Homo sapiens: one gene and its partners. The protein of the gene in region 1 interacts with the protein of each later gene in a pairwise test. Each region holds a gene or a part of one and is shown in the gene's direction. Other genes may lie near its edges. The genes, in order: HPCAL1, COLGALT2, SERPINI2 and CREM.

Region 1 (3,241 bases):
CTGGGCTGATGGGTTTCTCCAGGACACAAGTATCATTAAAGCCACCCTCTCCTCAGCTTGTCAGGCCGCACATGTGGGACAGGCTGTGCTCAGCAACCCCCTCGCCTGCCCTGCCCTCCATCAGGAGGAGCCAGTGGAACCTTCGGAAGCTCCCAGCATCTCAGCAGCCCTCAGAGTCGTCCTGGGGCAGCTCTGGTTCTCCTGACTGGAGGTCCATCTGGGCTGGCCTGCTCTCTCTCGGCCTGAGACAGGAGGGCCTGGGGTCAGGAACTGGAAGTGGGGAGGCTGGGGCCGTGGACTCTGAGGCCCCACACCTAGCCAAGGAGATGACCACACAGCTGGCTGCCCTGAGTGGTCAGAGGTGGAGGGTGGGGAGCCACTCTCTCCATTGGCAGAGGTTCCTGGGGACTGTCTGCTGAGGGCCTGGCTGTCCCTCCCTCTCCCTACCCACCCCTTAGCCCGGGCATTGTTTGGGCTCTCTTGGGGCCAGCAGGCTGCCCAGGCCCCAGAGGCATCAAGTTCGTGCCCTGGAAGAAGCCAGCCTGCCCAAGCCTGGGCCAGAGTCCCATGAGGACAGGTGTCCCTGCCTGCCAGTGGGCTGGAGGGGCTGAATTCCCAGCAGGGCCCTACTGTGCAGGGGCATCCTCCGTCCTGGTGCTGGTCTGAGTCCTCAAATGCATCCTCCCAGGTGCCTTTGAGATGGGTGTTCCCATTATCCCACCTTCGAGACGAAGATCCTGAGACCTGGAAACGTTGGTGGCTTGCCATGCGCCAGAGCCGAGAGCCCCTCCTGCATGCCTTCCCCTGTGCTGGGCCTGGCTGCATGCGTCTGTGTTGCCTGCACAGACATTTTGCAGGGTGCCCTAGTGATTCCAGCTGACAGCACAGAGCCTCAAACAGACACATGGAGGGGCTGCCCCAGGACCAGGCCGCCAGGACGCAGCCAACCTCAAACCTCATCCTTCCCCACCAGCTGGAGCCAGAGGGACCGCCTCCTGCCCTTGAGGCCATGTCTGAACGGGCAGAATCCTTACAGCCTATCCTGCTTGTGGACTAGCAGAGCCAGGGCTATAGTGACCACAGTGTGAGCTCATTGACAGCGGTTATGGGATGGGGAGCGGAGGGTCAGAAAACCTCACCCCACCCAGCTCAGCCGATCAGCCTTACGGAGCCCTGCCCTAGGCCACGAGCCTCCAGAGGCCACTCAGCCCAGTGTGGAGTCACCGAGTCTGTGTCCTGGGAGAGGGAATATGTTGTCACCAGCATTGGATGCGGAGGATGAGGGGGCAGCTGATTCCTTAGCACGACCAATCTTTTTCTAGGTTTTCCTCTCACCGCATGGGGCCAAAACAGTACAGAGCATGAGTTTGGTACCCCAAGCCTGAGCAGCGGGTCTACGCTGATGCCAGGGAGGATCCGGACCGTGCTTCCGGGGGCCCCCAACCAGCATGGCCTTCTCAGCCTGGATTCTGTATGGGTTAGAGGCAAATGCTTCATTTTTCTGCACAGTGTACACGTTCCTTAATAAGCGAAGTGTGGGGTGATTTCTAAAAGGATTTAAATGGCCCTCATCAGCCACGTCCTGCTGAGCTTGCTGGGTAAGCCCTTTGAGGTACCTGATGTATTGCAGGGAGCAGGGAAAGGAAAAAGGATTTTTTTTCAGAAATGCCTGTAAAGTGAATGGAGACTAGACACCGTCCAGCTTCAAGAAGGCTCAGGACTTTCAACAAAGGGAGCATACCTGACCTGAGAGCTGTCCCCATCCTCTCTGGAAGCATAAAGAACAGTGAGCACTGGCTAATCCCATTGTCTCTGGTCCCCTGCAGGCAAACTGTCCTTGGAAGAATTCATCAGAGGTGCCAAGAGCGACCCCTCCATCGTCCGCCTGCTGCAGTGCGACCCCAGCAGTGCCAGTCAGTTCTGAGCGAGCGGCCCCTGGACAGTTGCAGAGAAACACAGGCTTGTCGTGCCGTTTAAGCTTTGCTTGCAAGAGTGGATGCCCCGCAATCGTTCCTGCTCTCCCGGGCCCCGGGCCTGGGGCATGCGTTGCACCTGCCCAGCCCGGTGGCTGCGCCTCCCTCCTCCACCTGACCAACGCGACATTCCTCCCCTCACGCCTGGCCCGGTCCCTTCCAGGGCAACTCCCAGGGATGTGGTGACATGCAGGGTTCAAGTGTTCTTGGTTCCAGGCACCTCCCGGCTCACGGGGAGCTCAGAGGTCCATGCCGAGGAGACCAGGCAGGACCTCCCGAGGCTGCGCCCCGGCCGGCCCATGCGTTTTGTGATCCCAAGTGACTCTGTGGGAAGGGTGGGGACGAGGCGTCGGGAGGGTATACAGGGAGCCCCTCCCGTGCATGGCTGCCCCCCCGTTCATTTTCTCCACCACAGCCGCTTGCACGTATAGATACTGTGGTCCCCTTTCTTTTAATATATAAATTATGTATGGTGAAGTGGAGTGTATTGTGTAGGTCCCGTATTTAATGCCTCTGACTGCCTTTGAAGCGCAGCCCTCTGTGGCCCGCAGCCCCCTGAGCCTGGCTGTTGTGTGGTATTTATGCTCTCTTTGTCTGCCTGTTTCTAAGGAAATGCATGTGTGCCCTGAGCCGTGATGATCCTCCCATCCGTGTTGTGAGCACAGGCATTTGTGTCTGGTCTGTCCTCCCTGTTGATTGGTCTGGCATTTCCGGTATTAAAATGATAAAATAAATGGCATTTTCTGAGTTTTGCGTCTGCCCGCGGGAGCCCCCATTCCTCAGGCCGTGGCCCCTGCACTCTCCAGGCAAGGCGGGTGTGCTGCGTGCCACCGCTGTTGGTAAATCCGGCCCCTCTTACGTCCCTCCAGCTGTCCCCGCGTTTATAAATCTTGCACAGCCTGTTCTTCAATATCTGCCTAATGCCAAGAAATACTCGTGGAAATAAACGATGACTGTTCTTGGCAGATCTGACGGTCAGGCTTCTGCCTCCCCCCAGCCCTTCCCTCTCCTTCTCCTTCCACGGTTTCAGGTCGTAGGAAAGCCACATTCCAAGAGAGGACGGGCATAGCCAAGGGTGCAGTCAGGCTGGACCCAGAGGTGGCAGGCCTGGTTCTCCATCCAGCCTTCGCCGCTGCCGTCAGTGCTTCTGGTCCCAGCAGCAGAAGGCCCAGCTGAAGAAGTGGGGGTTGGTTGGTCTCGCCTGCCAAGGGATCCAAAGGCAGCATCGCTGGGGATCCCCAGGCATCAGCTTGTCTTTTTTTTTTTCT
Region 2 (7,040 bases), on another chromosome or scaffold:
TAAGAGCTCGTGGTTCTTCTAAGAACTTCACATTCATTTTCTGGTTTAAGCTTCAAAATGACCCTATCAGATATGCACTGTTATTATACCACTTTACAGGTGAGAGAACTGAGGTACAGAGAGGCTGTACAAGCATATTCTTCTAATGCATTTTTTAAAATAAGAACCAGCCAGATCAGGGCTGAAAAAAAGTGTATTTAGATATGTGTGTTTTTTTACAGATAAATATGATTCATTTTACTGGGCAGTGTAAGGTGATCTGAATGGCTTTTAAAGGGTTTGGGGAAGAACCAAATGATTTATAAATCAGATTGGGGCAGTTGTATGGATATGGATGTCTTCTTGATGAGTGGACACTTAGTTTGAACTCAGTTTTGAAGGAAGAGTAAAAATCAACTAAAACCTGGGAAAGAAGGATGGCTCTAGAAAAAGGGATCAGCAAGGCAAAAAACAAGCAAAAAAAAAAAAAAAGATAATAGGGCATCAACCAGAGTTTTCTCTCAGGGAGTTCAAGTGGGTGGCAGGTCTAATGACTGCAAGTCTCCAAACAGATTGTATTGTACCATAGAATCTCTTTGGAAGTGCTGACTTCTGGTCTGGCCCTAGGGGAATATTTGGCTGGGAAGCTTATGAGATATAACACTCTGATGGGAGGTGGTACCTCAGTTTAGGATGTTACAGATTTGAGGTGCTTCTACCGATTGCTTGCCTCTAGTTTCTCATTCCCAAGCTCTATGCAACATTCCAAGATGCCAAACTGATTAGTATCCATTCTGCAAAGCCAGCACATGCTGATGTCAAAAATGGCTGTGAGCTACCCAGAACTTTGTAAAATAGAACCGCAGTGAATACAGAGCCACACAGAATTCAGCTTCCTCTGAATCTGACCACAATAACTCACTCTGTGCAGACTCACTCTTCTCATTCATCCACTCACAGGCTAGAGGAGCATCTGATTTCTGTCCCAGATGGGTCAGTGAGAGACCTGGCTTATTGATCACATTCAGACTCCCCTGTTATGTGATAATTTTTCTCACTTTAAGTTCTGGACCAGATCTGCACTGCACATACAGATGAAATGAGTATCATCAAATTGACCTGGAAGATACTGTTGTTGAAGAATGTCTGCAGTTATCTCAGTCAGCATCAAGTTTATTCAGATTAGTCTGAACAAAGGAAAATTTATATTTTAGAGATACTTTGTATAAGCAAAAAGGAAAGCTTTTTACATTTACCTGTCTGATCTCAAAATCCACCAAGCTAATTGTTTTCCTTCAAATATCACAATCCTGTGATAAGGACCTAAGGAAGATATCTATTTCATGTGTCCTAAAACCTGCACTAAGTTTTAGGGAATTGGGAATATGCTGAGATGAAGGGAACTGTGAGGCATTGTGACAAGTGGTAGTGTACTTCAGTGGGTTCTCCTTAATTCAGTGGAACCATGAGCAAGTAGCCTTAGCAACAGAGGGAAGGCTGACCTCATCCTCCTTAAACCTATGATTAGGGAGAGTGGGGCCAAGTACCATGACAGTGAAAACCGAAGCATGGCGCAGGGAAAAACATTTGCCCCAAATGAAACATTAAGTTTTTCTTTTGGAGAGCCTGCTGTTGCTTGTGGGAAGACAGTTGGGATTCACAGAGTCTGTGCAGGCACAAGGCAGTAACTGCTATGTAATTACAGAAAGATTTGGGCATTTTGTTTGGCAGAGTTTTGAAAAGTAACATACTAAATTGGGAACCGCTTTATGGATTTTTAAATAAAGAGAGGAGCTTCTGTTGACATAAACATAAACAGTGATGAGCTGGGGGATGGTCCTAACATTTTGCATACTACTTTATTTCTGCATTGTTTGGGGATTATCTTGAATTTATCTCCACATTTTAATGTCCAATCAGTAGCATTTTCATAATTGTTTAACTAGAAATACTAATATACTTTGTGTTTATAAACTGTTCCAAACTAGTATCAGTGACATTTTTCAGCACCAGTGGTAAGAATGATGTCATATTTTATCATTACACTCTTGATATTAAATGTTGTATGTTATCCCTACAGATAGAAGTTTCGGTTTATGGCTGAAAAAGCAGATGATGCCTTAGGCCCCTTCTGTCTGTTAGTCTGTTTTCCTCACCTTTTTCCTCCTTTCCTCATTTTCCCAATCTGGTAGTTTAGCGTGGAGGGCATCAACCAGAGTTGGAGGAAGAAATATACAAGCTTAGGGTCAGATAGACTAGAGCATAAATCTTCTGTGTGATTGTGGGCACATCAGTAAACCTCTAAGACATAGCTGCCTTATCTTCAAATAACTAATAGTAACACCTGTCTCAAAGAGTTATTGTTACAAGTAAATGATATAAGGTATGCACAGTGTCTTTTACATAAATGCTACTAACAATGATAGTTGCTATTTCTTTTGAATCTTTTCCTTTTTCTCCTATCTCCTTTACCTTTACCTTTCAAAATCAAGATTTTAAAAAATCTTCAAATGGAAATTTGTTTAGTTTCTTCTTTCCAACAACAACAAAAAATATTAGTATAGGAAACTAACATTTATCTGGATGCAGTGGCTCATGCCTGTAATCCTAGCACTTTGGGGGGCCGAGGTGGGCAGATTTCTTAAGCCAAGGAGTTCAAGACCAGCCTGGGCAACATGGTGAAACTCCATCTCTACAAGAAATGTAAAAATCATCCAGGCACGATGGCATGCACCTATAGTCCCAGCTACTTGGGAGACTGTGGGTGGATTGCTTGAACCTAGGAGGTGGAGGTTGCAGCAAGCCGAGATTGAGCCACTGTGCTTCTTCCTGGGCAACACAGCGAGACCCTGTCTCAAAAGAAAAGAAAAAGGAAAAGGTAAGGGAAGGGAAAAATAAAGAACTAAGGAAGGAAGGAAGGAAGGAAGGAAGGAAGGAAGGAAGGAAGGAAGGATACATTCATGGAGGCACTGTTCTAGACACTTTGGTATCAAAACTGATTTACTCCAGACAACAACCCTAGGTGGGAGATGCCATTACATTCTACTCTATCACTTTACACAGAAGGAAACCGAGGCACAGAGAATATAAATAACTTGCCTGAGGTCACTAGGCTAATGCATGGTGGAGCCAGGATGTGACCCAGGCAGCTAATGTTGCAGACCGAGTACAGATGGTCTGCTTAAGATTGTGAAAAGACCAATTAGTTCTAGTTTTTGCTTCTGTCGGTTGACCCAACTTGGGAAGATAAGAACGCTAGTGTTTCTTTCAAATAAGAATTGTCATTTCCACTTGAATGATGCAAGGGTCTTAGTGGTTCTCTTCCGCTGTCTTGATAATTTCATCACTTAGTTCAGGCACTTTTTAGTGAACTCTAATCTGTTTTGGTATATTTCATAGGGACAGATTATGACTAAAATGTGGGTTGTACATAAATATGCAGGTCACTTGCTGTGATCATAGCTACATAACAGTAGAAAGAAATTTCTCAAGTATTATTAGTGGCAAATGATTAAGGTGGCACTAATCATACACGTATTGGCTACATTTTCAGTTCATATTGGTAAAATAGAGATTCCATTTTTCAGGCTTTTTAATCAGTAGTCTTAGATTTGGTTGTCCCCTAAATTCAGCTTCATTCCAAATGATTGAAGAAATTATCAATCCTCCCTGCAACCTCCAATTTCAAAATATGATTGGAGCTCAGAATATTTCCTCTGGGTAAAAACTGAAGTGACTAATAAATGACACCAATCCTGTTGTTCCAGTTATGACAGCTTAACTACAGAATTAGTAAGAATGCCTAAGTTGCCCTGGTTTTATTATATTGAGTTCCATGATGAGGCATCTAAAGCACAGGGCAGTTAAGAGATTCCCATGGTGATTATGGAATGAGATAACTGATTTCTAGATTTTTAATCCTGTGTAGCTGTTTTAATGCTGATTATTTTATAATGAATATCCTTCTTGGTTTAAAGGAGCATGGGGAGTATTTTAAGCAGAGTTTGGTTTTCTCAGATCTGTTTTTAGCTCCTTTATCCAAGTGATTAGGCCAGGGAGTTTCTTTGTGACTCCAAATACATAAGCATGTGCTTCTTAGGTTCCTTTTGCTTGTCTGTTTCTGGTGGTCATAGGAATGAACAATGAATGCCTTGTAACTGAGAAGGCTGCTGGTTGTCTCTTGGTTCTTTTTCCAACACTTAAACGTGCACTTGGGTCATATTGCTGTGTGGCACCGTCTCCAAGTCTATGGCACAGTATAGTAGGACCATTATAAGGCTTATATAGGACTATAGTAGGACAATAATAAGGCTTGTTTCTGCATATTTCTTGACATAGCATAACAACATACAGTAAAGTCTGAAAGAAAATCATTAGCCTATGGTATGGCCACTACACCTATTCCCCAGTTACCATATCATGAAGAACTTTTACCATATGTGTTTAAATTATAGCTATTATTCATCAGGAATTACAAAACGTATGTATTCTATGTTTTGACATTTTTATTTCAAAAGAGTGACTTGTTCATTTAATTGCATTTAATTGATATGTTGTTAGCATATCAAAAATTGTTAGTTTTTAAAAATTTGAATCCCTTAGGGTCTTTATGGATTTTTAATAGTACTTCAGTTATTTTAAGAATTTGCTCTTCTGACTTTTTTAAATGGGAAAGTAATAAAAAAAGTATGATTGGGAATATCACAAAAAGTAAATCTCCCATCTACTCTATACCACCTGCCAGTGACCAATATTAACACTTTCTTTCATATTTTTCTAGAAACTTTCTATACATATACATATATCCTTTTCATTTTAACCCAAATATGAGTGTTTTACATATCCAGTTCTGGATAAGTGTGATATTTTAAAATCCATCTCTCTATCCCATGTTCTTTAAACACTGCCAGCCTATCTACAGCCATGCCCTGGGTGGCACAATAAAAGCCAGCTTCATATAACACCTGTTCCAGGCAGGTACTCTGAAGGCCTCTCTGATAACACCCGTCCTGCTCTCTTGTCCTTGTCTCTCTGGCCTCTAGAAGGTCTGGCCCTAATAAAAAAAACTTTTTGATGAGGTGTAATATTTATCCAAAAGTTCATATATCATAAATGTATAACTTGGTAACTTTTCACAGACAAAACATGCCATGTAACCAGCACCTGACCTTGCCAGGCCTGGATTCATACACAGCAACTATTGTTGGAGCTGAGTAGCTGCTGTCCCCTGGATTTTGTCCAGGCAGCCCAGTCCCCATCAGACCCACACTGTGTGCACTTGCAGTTAGTCCCCGCTGTCTTTCTTTGACTTGACTTGCCTGACCCATGTTGACATTTGGGTGGTGAGCTTTGCTCCCACCTCAGGCTGCTGAAGGAACCCTAGGACCCAAGCAGTAACTACTTTGGGGAACCAGCAGGCTTGGCAAGCTGCCAGCGAGTGACCTAGTGGTAAAAGGATCAGGATTGTATTACTTTTCCCTTAGCTCTCTACTCCTCTGGTAGGAAAGCTGTGCATTAATGTTCATAAAAATAAAAATCTCATTATAGGTAATAATTGAAAAGTCAGGTAGAATATAAATAGAGTGGCTGTAATTAATTTGCTGGAACTTTCTGTAGTTCAGATCCGTGAAAATGCAGCATTTGTGGTAGGTGGCATTAGCCAAGTCTCTTGCATGAATTAAACCTCAGATTTGGCTGCAGGGCGTTTCTTTTCCTCTCTAGGAGCACCATACAGAAATCCTTTCAGAGTTAGACTTTGAATAATAGCTCCATGACATCTTGCTAGGGCTGACTTTGTAACGTGTTTCACTTAATTGAAGCAACAATTATTATTTTAGTTGTTTGTCAAATTCAGCAAGCTAAGGCCTGTCCCCTGACTTGTTGGTTTAACTGATAAGATTTTGTTCCTCTGCAAACATAATGCAAAATAATCTCCTTCCCTCCAGTGTTTTCTGATTAATGTTTGAAGACATCTTAGAAGATATGTCTTTCAGAAACACAAATAATAACATAAATAATGATCTTAGAATAGTGATCTTGGGCTGTATACCCCCAAGAGTATGGTAGAAGATGAGTCTGGGACAAGCTGCTGAGCTGAAGCATTTTCATGAGTACCTGATTTCATTCACACATTGGCTTTATTGGAATAGTTCATTACCTTCCAGGTTGAATCACTTCAAGACCTATTGAGGGATACATCAGGCTGCAGAGAGGAGGTTCCTTACATAGAGCTTTCCCCATTTGGACTGCCAAGCCCAAAGTGCATACAATTGCTGCCAAGAGGGAAGTAGGACTGTTTCTTTCCAGTCCCTTTTCTTTCTGAGAGTGATTGTATATGTTTTGGAGATGGGGAGGGCAGTGGTGAAGGCAAGTATCTCATTCTCACAAGAGAGAGACATAACTCTAAGACAGGAGAGTCTGTGGAGGTACATTGATTGGTGTTCTCCCTGAAAGCCATATTAAGTGAGAAACTGCTGCATTTTAGAGTCTTGGGAAAGGTAGAATTTTCTAGAGACTAACAGTAGAACTTAAATTCTTGGGATAGTTGTGAAAAGTGTGGTTGTAGACATTTGGGGCCATAGCATTCCCGACACGGAGTCCCTTGCTGGACTAATAGACTGTTTTTTAGTTTCTTGGTTGCCAGCCAGCCCCATAATCCTGTCTCAGCACCACACACCACAATGATTATGGTTTACACCCGCCAAGATAGTGGAAAGTTGCTGCCAAGTGGAATCAGGATTTTTCATGTCATCACTGCACCATTGAACAGTAAGCTTATATGCAGCTTCCACGCCACTGCTTTCCTTGTGCTAGAAACAGGTTGGGCGGGAGAGTATTCAGACAGTCAGACCATCTCTTGTGTTGCAAATGGATTTTGTGGAATTGGCATGTAAGGCTTGAAACAGCCAGCATACGAAAATATTTTAGAAAAGTACAAGCCTCTTCTCTGCCTTTCCTCAATCTTGTTAGATTTTAATAAAATTTATTGGGTACGTTGGTTTCCATTGTAAGCTTTTTATTTAGCAAGACAAACTATGGATTTCTAAAACAATGGATTTTTA
Region 3 (7,040 bases), on another chromosome or scaffold:
AAACCAGATTACTGAAAATAATATTGAAGACCCAGAGCCCTGCCACTTTCTTACTATATAACTTTAAGCAAATTACTTTTCTAAGATTTTTCTTATACTGTTAAATGCAGTAATGATAACACATGCCTCTTAGTGTTGTGAGGATTCCATGAGATAATGTGTATACAATTTTTAGTGCTCAATATTAGCTAAATATTATTTGTATTATTACTCATTTAATTCTAACAGTGGCCATATATTATAATGCCAACATTGTAATAGGTGGCCCCCCATCATATCGCATTAAATTCCTCAATCAATTTGATGAAGGTCTAGTTTTACATTAAGGTTACAGACAAGATGGAGACAGGTAAATACCTTGCCTATGGTCACACAGCTAATTAATGGCTGAGCCAATACTAGAAGAGGTCAGCCAGACGTCTGAAAACAGGTGACTGTAGGGCAAGCAAGAGAGGGAGCACAGAACAGAACAAACAGTCAGTGATAGGGTGAGCAGTAGGATGAGAGATCTGGAGTAGCCGTACCAAGGAGACTTTTCAAAAGATGTAACACTTACCACAGGACATAAATGATCATCTTTTTGCTGGCTAGAAATTAATTCTAGGCTTGGCCAGCCTTGGATCTATAAGTGGGTGAATGTAAATTGTGTGTGGGTGGCAGGAAGGCAAGGAAAATGAGACTGGATATGAGAATAGATACGTTGTGACCAGCTGCAGTAGTGATTACAAAATGTTCGTTTACTTTGACCTATTGGACATGGATAAAAATGGGAATACTAGGCATACATTAAACATTATCCAGATGTTTCATATGTGAAAGTATTTTAAATTCAGCCTGTGACGTTAATAGAGTATTTTAATTATTTTACACACACACACACACACACACACACACACACACACACAGAGGTAATTGATTGGAAAGTGACCAGAATTTACTGTGTACTCACATAACCATCTAGGGCCACCATTGTCAAAGATTGTGTTGTATTTTTCTCCTCATGAGCAACCCTAAGATTTGGTTTGGTTGGTTCCAGCTCTGAACAGTACAAGTGATATGGTTTGGATTTATGTCCCCACCCAAATCTCATGTCAAATTGCAATCCCCAGTGTTGGAGATGGGGCCTGGTGGAAAGTGATGGGATCATGGGGGCAAATTTCCCCCTTCAGTGCTGTGCTCATCGTAGAGTTCTCACGAGATTTGGTTGTTCAAAAGTGTGTAGCCCCTGCCCCCTGTTTCTCTTCCTCCTATTCCAGCCATGTAAGATGTGCCCATTCCTCTTTGCCTTCAGCCATGATTGTAAGTTTCCTGATACCTCCCTGGTAACCAACAAATGCCAGCATCATGCTCCCTGTACAGCCTTTGGAACTGTGAACCAATTAAACTTCTTTTCTTTATAAATTACCCAGTCTCAGGTATTTCTTTTTTCTTTTCTTTTCTTTTCTTTTCTTTTTTTTTTTTTGAGACTCGTATTTCTTTATAGCAGTGTGAGAATAGCCTAATACACCAAGAATGATTCAAGCCCACTGTACCAAAGCTGGGATTTCAGATGATAACACAAACCCAGAGGGAAATTGATCCAAGACTTTTTTTCATTAAACAAGAACTCTGGGGATAAGGGGAAAGGAAGGGCCAATACCATTCCCCAACAGGGCCTGGAGGCCAGAAGTAGGTCATTCTTAAAACAAAAATTGGGATTGTTTTTCATTTTTCTGCAGCTTTTCCCTTTGTGAGATCTGTTTCAGCACAATGGTTACATTTGGGAGTGAATTACTCTCTTTTAAACAAATAGATATTATTTGCATATGCTAAAAATTCCATTCATGATTTAGTTGCTAATTGTTTATCTAGCATTTTGCTGCTCATTCTTCTACTTTTGCCTGCTGTTCTTTTGACAATTTTAGAGGAGGATTAAGGAAAAGGGAAAATGAACCACAACTGGGAGAAATATGAAGACTCATAAACTTTGGAAGAGGGACATTATATATATTGACCAATATGGTGGTGTTGAATTACATTTTGATTAGAAAGTAGTGGCAGTTAGCACATTAGCTTTGACTTCAAATAGACCTGAGTTTAAATCATACCTCTGGAACCTACCTTAACCTTAAGCCTGAAAATTAACCTCCTCAGGCTTCTATTTTCTTATACGTTAATGGAAATAATGCCGACTTCCTTAGATTTTTCTAAAGATTAAAAACTATAATTTATCTTAAGTACCTAACACATGGCAGTGCTTCTTCACACCTGGCTATTCATGGCTCCAATAATTATGGATAATTAGGAATTGGCTGTAGATTATACATTCATTAGATGGCTGAATGTGTTTTTATTGCTGTAGGTTTCATTGGACTATATTATGAGCAGGACTGTTACTTAAATGACTCTCCAGTGATAATTAGGCATTATTAGAAGTTGTAATAAGTCTTGCAGTATTTTTGTCATTATCCTAAAATTATTGGACTATTATAGCCCATTTATAGGTAGATTAGAACATATATTCTCCACCCTTTAAAAGCCCATACTCCATTCAGTTTAAAGACTGTGGTAATAAAAACAGGAAAAAAGCCAACCTCCCAAACCATCATGCTGCATATTATCTTTCTTAGTAGGAAGTTACAAGGAAGAGGGTGAAAGCAGTTGGCATAGAATGAGCTATTTTCTTTATCAGCTGATTTTAATGTGCATGTTGTGTCCATTCCCAGGTAGATAGGGTTCTGAATGAGTTACCATCTTCCAAAAAAACATATTGTTTTACCAAGAAATAATTTAGTCCCAGTAGAGTTCTGCCACAGCATGTTCATTGCTTTGGAGAATTATAATTAAGAAGCTCATTCAGTATTTCCAATTAAAACAATGATCTAATTAGACTGATTGCCCCACCTAATTTCTAGCTCCAGATGTGGGCCTACCTGCTGAATGAACAAGGATCCTTGAGCACTAGCGTATGCATTCTAACTGGGGAGCACAGGGGTCAATGCCCAGAGGGCATAGACAAAGCCCCTCATTGGGAATTGCCTGGAATTTTGCTGATGTAGGAAATATATATAGCTCCCTGTTTAAGATTATTACATGTGTCTTTTCTTTCATAAACAAAGTTTCTGATCTGTATTTAAAATGCAAATTAATGCTTTAAGCATCTATGAAGTCAATAAGTACTAGCTTCCCCCCACCCCCACTTTTATTTAAATGGGAAAGTGAGGTTCAGTGATTGCTTTTGACTTGGAATCGTGGAAGATCAGTGGCTGAGAAAATCTTTTGGGATTATCTGGTTAAGTTCCCTTTTCACAGGTGAGGCAAATTAAGGCACAGACAGGTGAGCCAGACACTAGTCTCCTAACTTACGGCTCAGTGTTGGAAGCAGTGGCTACCTCCTTTTTTTTTTGCCCACCCCCCCCCACTCCTGTAATTTTTGTCTTTTATTTCCTTTGAAAGAAATCTGGTTCCCCTTCCTTTATCCTTTTATAGGGCCTATTTAAAAGATATTAGGCCTGTCCATACACTAAAGAACATCTCATTGACTGTGACAATGGGCGAGATGAATGATGGGTTATAAATATTTCTCTCTTCCTTAATAGCTAACAATCTTCTCCAAGGACTGTGGACTCCTGTTCCCTGCTCATCATGTCATGGGCATCTGCCAGGAACCATCTTTGATGGTGTAAAAATCTTGAATACATAAGAGGGAAATTTTAGACTTGTTAGAAAGAAGCCAAGCAATTGAGACCTTAGATAGAACTTAGAATTCTCACCGAGTTTTGTTGGGTAATTGTTACTTCAAAAAAAAATGCAATTTCTGTTCCCTCTTTCCTCCAACCATTTATCTGGGAAGCAAGTTATTGGCAACCCAGAGCTGATTGTTGGAGCCGGGGAAAATGGTGTGAAATGTGAGAAAATGTAATTGAGATAATAAAAACAAAAGATTTTACAATATATTATCCTCTAAGTCATCCATTAAAAAATTGGTAGCAAAAATGTGCAGTGTTTCAAGACTTTTCTTTTTCTTTTTTTTTTAATAACAGATTTAAAGTAGAACAAAAAGTAGACTTCAAAGACGTTTTGTATTCTTTGAACATAACCGAGATATTTAGTGGTGGCTGCGACCTTTCTGGAATAACAGGTAGTATGATAAATAATTCTTATATTATGATGTTAATTTGTTTTGTTAGGACTACATTAACTAGCTGAGCTTAAAACTGAAAGAGCATTCAGCTCTGATAAATATACGCACAGTGAATAAATGTCATAGTCATGTTGAGCTGTCTGTAAACAAGCACTTTATGTTTAAGTAGTTTTTCTTAATGAAAGTCAAAAAGCATTTTAGAATGTTAGATAAGCACTCTGGCTATACTTCTAATAAAACTACATAAGTAAAAGTATTATATGGGTTTTTATTTCTGCCCTGTTTGGATCTCCTCATCTGAATAATGGGAATTACAACTTTGAGTCTCTCATCTAAGCAGAGCTAATACAACTCTTATAAACCAATTTGCAAATGTTAATTCACTAATATGAGAACACATGAAATAGTCATCCATAAGCTGCTGGATGATGAACACAATCAAGAAATTGTAACGCTACAGCTTGCAGATTTAGCAACAGAGTCTTTTGGGCTGACAACATATCTGAGAAGATAAGATGGAGCTCTTATGCTAACTCGCATCAGGGGAATCCTGCATGGTTAACACGTTCACTTGTACAACAAAGCCAAGATAGTCTTTGAATTCTTCGAGTCTCAGTGGTACACACTAGTTCAAAAATAACTCGCTAAAAAAATGGATGAAGAGAGCCAGTTTGTCCCAAGTTACTTACCCTCTTTTAAATTCAGTCTTCTGTTCTATAAAAATGGGCCTAAGCTTGTCTGTCTGATGGGGTTGTAAATCATAACATGAAATAGTGCAGAAATGTTTTATGTATTTATTTCTATATAGGTATCTGGGCTTTGGAAACGTGTTGTTAATTTAGTCATCACCCATCAATTATATGGGCAAATGAACAGAATGAAAAACTTTCCTGGTGGAGGAGGTGAATGAGGTCACAAATATCAAAATGTTCATTATCACCTTCACACACGGTGTAGCTACTCGTTCTCACACTGACAGATAGATCTGACTTCTCTGACAATTTTGTCCGCACTAGGTATGAGATGGTCAACATTAAATACTGCAACAGGATGCTCTGTAAGTGTGCCCTGAGACACAACCACCTCTTCAACCTTCAATAATCCAAACTATTTTTCATGCACTTCCTTTTCTTAAACTTCTTTCTGGCCATAGGGAGATCACTCAATATGCCTCAGACACTTCAAACAGCCACTTGTTCTGCAAATTCCCAGCAATTTGTGACTTCTAAAAAATCTCCTGTTACAGGCAGATTTTTAAAGAAAATACTTCCAAAATGTTTCATAAAAGACTTTATTCAAGAAAATGACCCAGTGCAGAAAAGAATAAATGTCCAGCATCTTCTGTTCTTTCCCTCTTGAGTTACCTATTTGAGCTGTTTTAACCATTTTGGTTCCGTCTTATTGCCTAGAATAGAATAGTCATAGCCAATGCTGATACCCCTGCTGGTAGCTAGGAGCACAGTAAATTCTCTGCTATCTCTACTTATCATTTGTACAATAAACATTCACTAAAGGCTACTATGAAGCAGCCCAACACTAGTCTTATGGGACATCTGTGTGAAAGGGACACTACCTTATATTTATATAGTTCACAAGTTTTGAATGAAATGTTTTTATAGAGTTATTTTGGAAACTGTTAGAAAAATATTTGACTTCTCACTCAGTTACTACTCCTTGTGTAACCTGTAGTAAAATATTTAACCTTTCTGAGTGTAAGCATTCTAATCTGTTAAGTGAGATAATATAGTGACTGGGGAAATAAATAAAAGAATGTATGTAAATCATCTAGTTTAACATTTGGCACATAGTTAAATATAAAACAGCAAGTGGGAAAAGTATCACATTAATATTACTTGCACATCTAGCAAACGTATTGTTTTCTTGTTCTCTTAATTTAATAACAATGTACTTAGAATTTTCATTTAAAAATTAAGAGAAATAATGACTATGAAGGTATAATGAATGAGTTTGTAGAGTCCACATTCTTACTTCTAACCTATCATATTTCAGGGCCTGTTCTTTTCCTAAGACTGGGCTTTCTCTGCAGTGAGATGGAACAAAGGAGACTAAGTGGATTAGTCTAATAGCCAGGGAGTCATTTGGGCTGGTGCCATTGCTAAACTGGGTGAAATTCTTCACTCCTTCCTAACCTGCTTTTTGGTCTTTCCTCTTGGTGTGGGCCACTAGGTCATTCCCTCTGTGTTTATTTGTCTTCTTCCAGGCAGTCCTGGGAGAAGAAGGTGCTTATTTGCCGGACCTTGAGAGAAATTCTCTCGCATTTCAGTTAATTCACACTAATAGTGTGGATGCCCATCTCTCTCCACTTTACAGGTTTCTATCACTAGACATACTCAGATGCATTGACCTATTTATTATTGACTTATATATTACAAATATTTATTGCGAGCCAATTATGAGCCAGGCAGTTTTCTAGAGCATGCTTCCTTTGTCCTCTGAGGAACATTGTCAGATCTATCTTGTCTTGCAAGGCCAGCTTGACATGGCTTCTGGGCTCCGGGTTTCACTTCTTCCTTCTTGAGGAGACTATACTTGCAATTCACTCTACCAGAAACGCTTCACATATACATCAGTTCCACCAAGGGGAGAAAAAGGAGCATTCACTCTCAGCTCATATCCACACCAGAACAAAACGTTGTAAAGCACGATCTTATGCTGAAAATTTTAACAGGTTTTAAAGTGTATCTCTGAAGTGATTTTGTAACAGGTGACACAGAAGTTCCTTAGAATTTCATAGCTTCCCCAGATTTGAAGGCAAGTACATTTTATTTTAAACTACGATCAAAACCAAATACAGAATATAAAAGGCACTTTGGCTTTGAGGTTAAATATACAGGGTGGGATTAATTCAGATCTGGAAAGCCTCTTTCATTCTGTCTATAGACAATGGCTAAGGGAG
Region 4 (7,040 bases), on another chromosome or scaffold:
TGAATGAGGGAAAAGAGCATATATTTTATGATACATTTCAGAAAATCTTGTATTATAGGTAGCAGCAATTGCAGAGACAGATGAATCTGCAGAATCAGAAGGTGTAATTGATTCTCATAAACGTAGAGAAATCCTTTCACGAAGACCCTCTTATAGGTAAGTTAACCAAGTTTCCTAATGTAAAGATACTTTTTCCAAAATGGTAGAATAATTATACATCAAATCAATTCTTCCTTTATAGCTTTTCTGTTTTAAGACTTATTCATGTATCTTAGTGACTTACCTTGTTAAATTGTATTTTAGGAAAATACTGAATGAACTGTCCTCTGATGTGCCTGGTGTTCCCAAGATTGAAGAAGAGAGATCAGAGGAAGAAGGAACACCACCTAGTATTGCTACCATGGCAGTACCAACTAGCATATATCAGACTAGCACGGGGCAATACAGTATGTATGCTGCAATTCGATATGATACAGTGCTAGCTTTAAGTCTTCTCTAGTTATATTGAAGCAACTCAGGTTTTGGCATTAAATTGTTCCATTTTAAAATGCATCATTAATACCTAAACTGTATCATAGAATGAAAGTATATGTTAAAAAGTGAGATCTTTGTATTGACAGCTGTCATATAATTTTGAAAAGTAAAAATTTTGACTGCCGAATATAGAAGAAAATTTTGGGGTAAAAAGGAGAATTTTTCCTATTTACATGTTTATATTAATCTCTAGTAAAACATTGTTTTTGTTGTCTTTATGATGCATGCGAACATAAATGTCTGTATTTCATTCTTGTTGGCTTTTGTTACCCACAATTACATACTATTCTTACTAATCTGAGAGTTTTCTAAAGTATGTTTTCAATGTTTCACTACTCTCTACTCTGTTAATTTGTGCTACAGTTTTTCCTAAAAGAGAATGGAAAAATGATTTAATTTTTTAAACTGTAGCAATTGGATAGATAATTTTATTTGAAATTTTACACACTGAAAGCTCTAAATAAACAGATACATTCACATTCAGTCTTGTGCATTTTAATGGACCGTTAATTCTGTGCTTTTTGCTCTGATTAAAGCACTAGTTTTTTTCCCAAAAGAAGAGTGTTTGATACGTAAAAAGCAAGAGCTAGAAAGAAAAGAAAAAGGAGGAGAAAGGTTAGGGATATCACATATCCTAAGCTAGCCCCTTAGGTACTGGAATAATGTGATATTCCTGTCCTTTCTGAAGTATAAATTGTCCATGGAAGTTGTCTAAATCAATTTCCCATGTAATTATAATATGAAGTAAAGTGAGTTTTGTAAACTCTGCTACCCTAGGTCCTCAAAGTAATTGAACAAATATATTGACAGCAGTCATGTTGTTGAAGAGATTCATAATTTTAGTTTTCTGACTTTAAAAAGAGCTACTTAGGTACTGGAATATATGTGATATTAAATAATGTGTTTATCCAAATAAGGTATTAAGATTTTAGATATATTCTTTGTTTTTCCTTTAAAAAGTAGCAATACCAAGAAAAAAAAACTCAAGTCTTAATTTAAGTCCTGACTACTAAAACAAGCTATAATCTTTAATGTATGAGAAGACTTTATATAGTCATTATTTTTGTGGAGCTTTTTAGAGTTTTTCTTGTAGCAGTGGTAGATTTGCAGTAGTAAACTATTAAATACATTCTCTGTTGGTAATTGAGGGGAACTCCTACCATGATACCTAGCAGATCCGGGGTGTAGTGTATTCACACGTTTGACAGGGCACCCAGTAGACTTGTCCAAAGTCAGTGTTAGGAAAAGAAAATCCCCACCATCTGTAAGAAATAGACCTTGAGGTTTACATTGTCATTTTTTTATTACTTCTCTCGTTTACATGCTCTTTTGTCTGGCACACTGGGAATCTCTGGTGGGTTTTAGAACTGTAAAACTGAATATGCCAGCTGATGAGCCTCTACAGCACAGCACGCAGGTTATGAGAGTGCTGAGTGCCTCGTCCCCCCGTCCCCAGAGGGGCTGGGCAGAAGCTGCTGGCGCCTCCTGGCTGGTCAGCCCTGGCCTTGAGCAGCTCCATCCACTCACCCCAGTGGGCTGTACACATGTCATCATGTTCTGTTTGTGTAATGACAGGGAAAAGGTTGGAAGTGACTGCTGAAATGACACTAAGACTTCTCAAAGTGTTGGGAACCACTAAGATGCTGTCATCGTAACATTTCTCTGGCATATGCTAATGCTACTTAGGACTTCTGATAGAAGCAGTGATTCCTTTACAAGTTGATAGGGAAGCAGATGCTGTAGGGTTAACTTGTCTAGATTATTAGCTGAAAATTTGAAATTGTGAAAATGTATGGGGTTGAAGCTGGAGAGGATGTGGAAGGAACCATCTTTGTGCCATTTGCAAACTCAATGATCAGAGCAAGAAGCTTTATTAAATTCACATCTCAGGTTTTAGTCTTTGAAGTGGGAATAATACTAAATTGCCAAACTCTGGGGTTCCTGTGAAGACAAAGGAGATAATGGGTAAAAGTAGGGGGAAAAAGACATGCTACTATTGGCATGAAACAGAGAAATTAAGTTAGGTGTACCATTGTCTCATTCATGTTCATTGAACTTTCCCTCCAGCCAGCCCCAATGGCTTCATTCCCTGTGTCCTTGGTACCTGCTCACAGCAGGGGGCTGGCCTTAAACCTCACTCTGTGTGTCTGTGGGGGGGATGAGAGGAGCAGAGTCAGGAATTTTGGTTGAGAACTAGAAAACTGCATCTGTAGAAATTAGATCTTAGGCCAGGTGTGATGGCTCCCACCTGTAATCCCAGCACTTTGGGAGGTCTAGGCAATGAGGGTTGCTTGAGGCCAGGACTTTGAGACCAGTCTGGGCAATAGAGTGAGACCCTGTCTCTACAAAAGAATTTTAAAAATTAGCAGGGTGTGGTGGTATGCGCTCATCCCAGCTACTCAGGAGGCTGAGGTGGGAGGATTCTCTGAGCCCAGGAGTTTGAGGCTGCAGTGAGTTATGATTGCACCACTGCACTGTCCAACCTGGGCAGCAGAGTGAGACTCTGTCTCAAAACAACAAACAAAAAAAACACATCTGTCTATTTGCCACATAAGAGGTCATGGACTATTTCTTACTTTGGTTTCTTAATTTGAGTCTATACAGTATGATCCTAGAAATTATTCTGATGAGAAGTTATAGTTCTGTATGTACAGTCTGCAGGTAAAAATTGCCATTTGTTCACACAATGTGAATTTCTTTTGTTAAAAATGCATTTTGGGGACATTTAGTGAAATATATGTAGATAATTCTTTGAGAAGTGAATACTAACAACATTCAAACTTTTTAGAAGACGTTTACTTTAATTGGAGGGTAAACATACTTACACACACAACATCCATTTTTATTGATCTTATTTTTTATAGAACTAACTTAGCAGATATTAATGCTTTAATGTTGTAGCAGAATGTCTAGAAATGGAAACAATTGCCAGTTTCCTTTGGTTTTTGAATAGAGGAACGTATTTTATTAGAATTTCTGGAGATTTTCCTATTTTTTTCCTTCCCTTTGAGCTGTAAATTTTTTTTAATGCTCTTTCATAACCTTTTATTATAAAAAAAAATTTTAGGTTTAATTGTTCAGCTTTTATCCATGGATGGCTTTCTCCCAAACTTTGCTTTTATTTCTTTTTTTCCAATATTTTATTAGTTATTTTTAATTTGGAATAATGAGTTAGCTGGTGTTTAAAAGAACTAAATGTGTATCAAAGTTGAAGAAATAAAGTATATTCAAGTTTTCCCATATACAAGCAGTTACATTTTTAATAGTTGAAAGATATTTGGCAGAAGTTGGCCTTATTATATTGACTTACTATTATCACAAAAACTAAAAAGTGAAAGTTGGAATAGGCTGCTCCCTGGGGAGTAGGAAAAAGCATAAAATAGACAGGGATCCATTATTACAACACCAAGTAAGTGAGCTGTACCTGCAGAATCCTCACTGGAAGTACAGATCTTAGTGATAGGTGTGTTGCATAACAGTTGAGCTGGTCGAAGAAAGTCTTTTATTTCAGAAGCATATACCCGAGAGATGGCGGGAGAGAGACAGCCTTAGAATTAACAAAGAATGTTACTTGCTGCATGAGACAGTTAAGATAGGCAGTAAATGAGTGAATTTGTAAAAGCAACCGAGGAAATTAAAATGTTTGAAGCTTCCTAATTCATTAAATTTCCTCTTGAAACAAAGGTTACTTAAATCCTCCATCCTACTATACCCAACCTCTTCCTGTACCAATTAAAGACTATCACCCAAGACTTCAGTTTTTTTCCCACAAATGGCCCTTGTCTCTGCTTGTGCCTATTGTATTTTACGAGGAATCTTATTAGAGTATTAACTCATCTTTCTGGAATTCTTATACATGAAAGGTAAGTGGGTCAATCTAAACTGCACCATTATGAAAAGAAAAATATGAACTTTGTGGACTCCTTATAAGAATTCAGAATTCTCAGGAGGCTCACGAATAAGCACCAATTCAACTTCTTCATAAAGGGAATTAGAACATAATAGGCTTACACATTCGAAAGTTAATCCAGTTGCAGTTCTTAATAGTGACGTTGTTTACATTTCTCTAAGGCAACTGTTTCAAAATTTTTTAAGGCACTACTTAATGTAACTCTGGCTTTTAAACTTTGATGTTGCTATTGTTGTTATAGCATGATTTAGTCTTCCTTCTGCTATAATGCACCTCTTGGCTTTTAAGGTACAAGTACTCATAGGTGCTCTCTTATGGTCACTCTGAATTTAAACCTGAGAATTCATTGGAACAAAGGTCTGTTTGCTGCTGTTTTTAAAGTTAATGCAGTGAGATTTCATTTATGAATCTTTGGATTGCAATTTGGAACAAGAGTGGTTTTAAATATAAACATTTACATGTGTATGTATTTTAATTAGCTCATGTGTATAAATTTAGGATTAGAAGTATATAACATGGGCCGGGCGTGATGGTTCACGCCTGTAATCCCAGCACTTTGGGAGGCTGAGGTGGGCGGATCACCTGAGGTCAGGCATTCGAGACCAGCCTGGCCAACATGGTGAAACCCCATCTCTACTGAAAATACAAAATTAGCCGGGTGTGGTGGTGCACACTTGTAATCCCAGCTACTTTGGAGGCTGAGGCAGGAGAATCGCTTGAACCCAGCAGGTGGAGGTTGCAGTGAGCTGAGATCACACGATTGCACTTCAGCCTGGGCGAGAAGAGTGAAAGTCCATCTCAAAATAAATGAACAAATAAATAAATAAGAAGTGTATAACATCGCCAGGCTTGGTGGTTTGTGCCTGTAGTCCCAGCTACTCAGAAGGCTGAGGCAGAAGGATTGCTTGAGCCTAGCAGTTTAAGACCAGCTAGACCAATATCAGGATGTGGGGCAACACAGCAAGACCCCATCTCTTAAATAAATAGCTAAAATAGAAGATATGTCTAAATTCATTCAGTTAATTTCATCTTATTTTTTCTATCTTGATTTATGTTTATTGAAAGCACATGTTATGCTATCCTTGACTATTTTGAAACCTAAACAGTTTTCTCCTCAAATCTCTGAATACAGACAGGCCCACGTAAAACCTATTTCCAGGATCCTGAGGCACTGGGAAATTTTGTTTATTGTCAGATGAGAGAGAACATTTTCAATGGGAAGGTCCTCTGTCATTTGATAACAACAAAATCAAGAGCACCTTTGGCATAAAAATGAAAATGAGGCTGACGTGCCTGACTTAATCAGTAGAAATGTTTTCTCACTAGAGCCAGTGTGTGAGGGGTGTGTGTGTGTGTTTGTTTAGCTTTTGTTTTCCATATCTAATTATATAATGACTTCCCCAGAAAATAAAATGAGAAACAGATTCTTGATGTGTCAGCTGTTCATATTGTGAAAACAAAGTTTTTTGATCAGAACTGTGGGGAAACATTACTGAAAAGAAAAAAGGAAACGAGTAAAGCAAAAAGAAAGAGAAAAAAGGAAGTAAAGGTCTTTGTTATCTACCTATTTAGGGGTTCTTACCCTGAGGCAGCTACTCTCACCTCAGATTGACTTGATCGTTATTTAAAAGCTTGATAATTTGGTGTTGAAAAACTAGGTTCTATGATTGGAATTTGAAACCATACCTCATTTAACTCTCCTAGATTCACAGGGGGCTTAAGTTTTTTATAATATCATCTGTCATGAGGAAATGATAGCCATTCATTCATTCATTCATTCATTCATTCATTCTATTTTTTGAGTGGCTGCTCTGTTCTAGGCTTTGTACTTCTTTTTTTTTTTTTTTTGAGACGGAGTTTTGCTCTTGTCCAGGCTGGTGTGCAATGGTGCAATCTCTGCTCACCGCAACCCCCGCCTCCCAGATTCAAGCGATTCTCCTCCCTCAGCCTCCCGAGGAGCTGGGATTGCAGGCATGCACCACCACGCCTGGCTAATTTCTTGTATTTTTAGTAGGGACGGGGTTTCTCCTTGTTGGTCAGGCTGGTCTTGAACTCCTGACCTCAGGTGATCCACCAACCTCGGCCTCCCAAAGTGCTGGGATTACAGATGTGAGCCACCGCGCCCGGCCTAGGCTTTGTACTTCTAATACACTGTGGTTACCTGACCTTGGGCTGCTCTTTCTAAAGCACTATTTCTGTGACATCAAACTAATTATCAACTGAAAAATACACATTCAAATATATGAAAACATACACAATTTACTCATGTCTAGCCACAAGGGGCCAAGAAAGCAGTGTCTTTTGACATTTTCATACTTGTAAGAAGTTAGTTAGATCTCTCTCAAACCCTTTTACTATGAGGGCTGAATCCTGAGACCCATGAAATCTTTGGAAAGCCATGGTTTAAAAATACCCTGTTTTTAAAGTGTGTACAGAAAATAACTGCTCTAGGTGAGCCAGATAAAGTGCTGTTACATCAGGGTGTCTCAACCTCAGTTCTATTGACATTCTGTAACTGACTCTTCAGTTTCTGCCACACTGGCCTGTCAGTGAAATAAAACACAGAGAACGCAGCATGTGGAAGTCTTTTTAAAAA

What was found.
Region 2: the proteins of HPCAL1 (region 1) and COLGALT2 interact in binary tests that used the Homo sapiens proteins (3 or more experiments, as listed by UniProt).
Region 3: the proteins of HPCAL1 (region 1) and SERPINI2 interact in binary tests that used the Homo sapiens proteins (3 or more experiments, as listed by UniProt).
Region 4: the proteins of HPCAL1 (region 1) and CREM interact in binary tests that used the Homo sapiens proteins (3 or more experiments, as listed by UniProt).

Annotation. Positions count from the first base shown.
Region 1 is NC_000002.12:10,424,898-10,428,138, forward strand, and holds the end of HPCAL1 (hippocalcin-like protein 1), read left to right. Parts: exon of another isoform or gene 1-1,826; coding exon 1,827-1,924; 3' UTR 1,925-2,707; downstream 2,708-3,241. UniProt on the Homo sapiens protein: May be involved in the calcium-dependent regulation of rhodopsin phosphorylation.
Region 2 is NC_000001.11:184,027,710-184,034,749, reverse strand, and holds part of COLGALT2 (procollagen galactosyltransferase 2), read left to right. Parts: intron 1-7,040. UniProt on the Homo sapiens protein: Beta-galactosyltransferase that transfers beta-galactose to hydroxylysine residues of collagen.
Region 3 is NC_000003.12:167,450,016-167,457,055, reverse strand, and holds part of SERPINI2 (serpin I2 precursor), read left to right. Parts: intron 1-4,022; coding exon 4,023-4,120; intron 4,121-7,040.
Region 4 is NC_000010.11:35,178,831-35,185,870, forward strand, and holds part of CREM (cAMP-responsive element modulator), read left to right. Parts: intron 1-41; exon of another isoform or gene 42-58; coding exon 59-156; intron 157-303; coding exon 304-446; coding exon of another isoform or gene 447-499; exon of another isoform or gene 500-1,017; intron 1,018-7,040.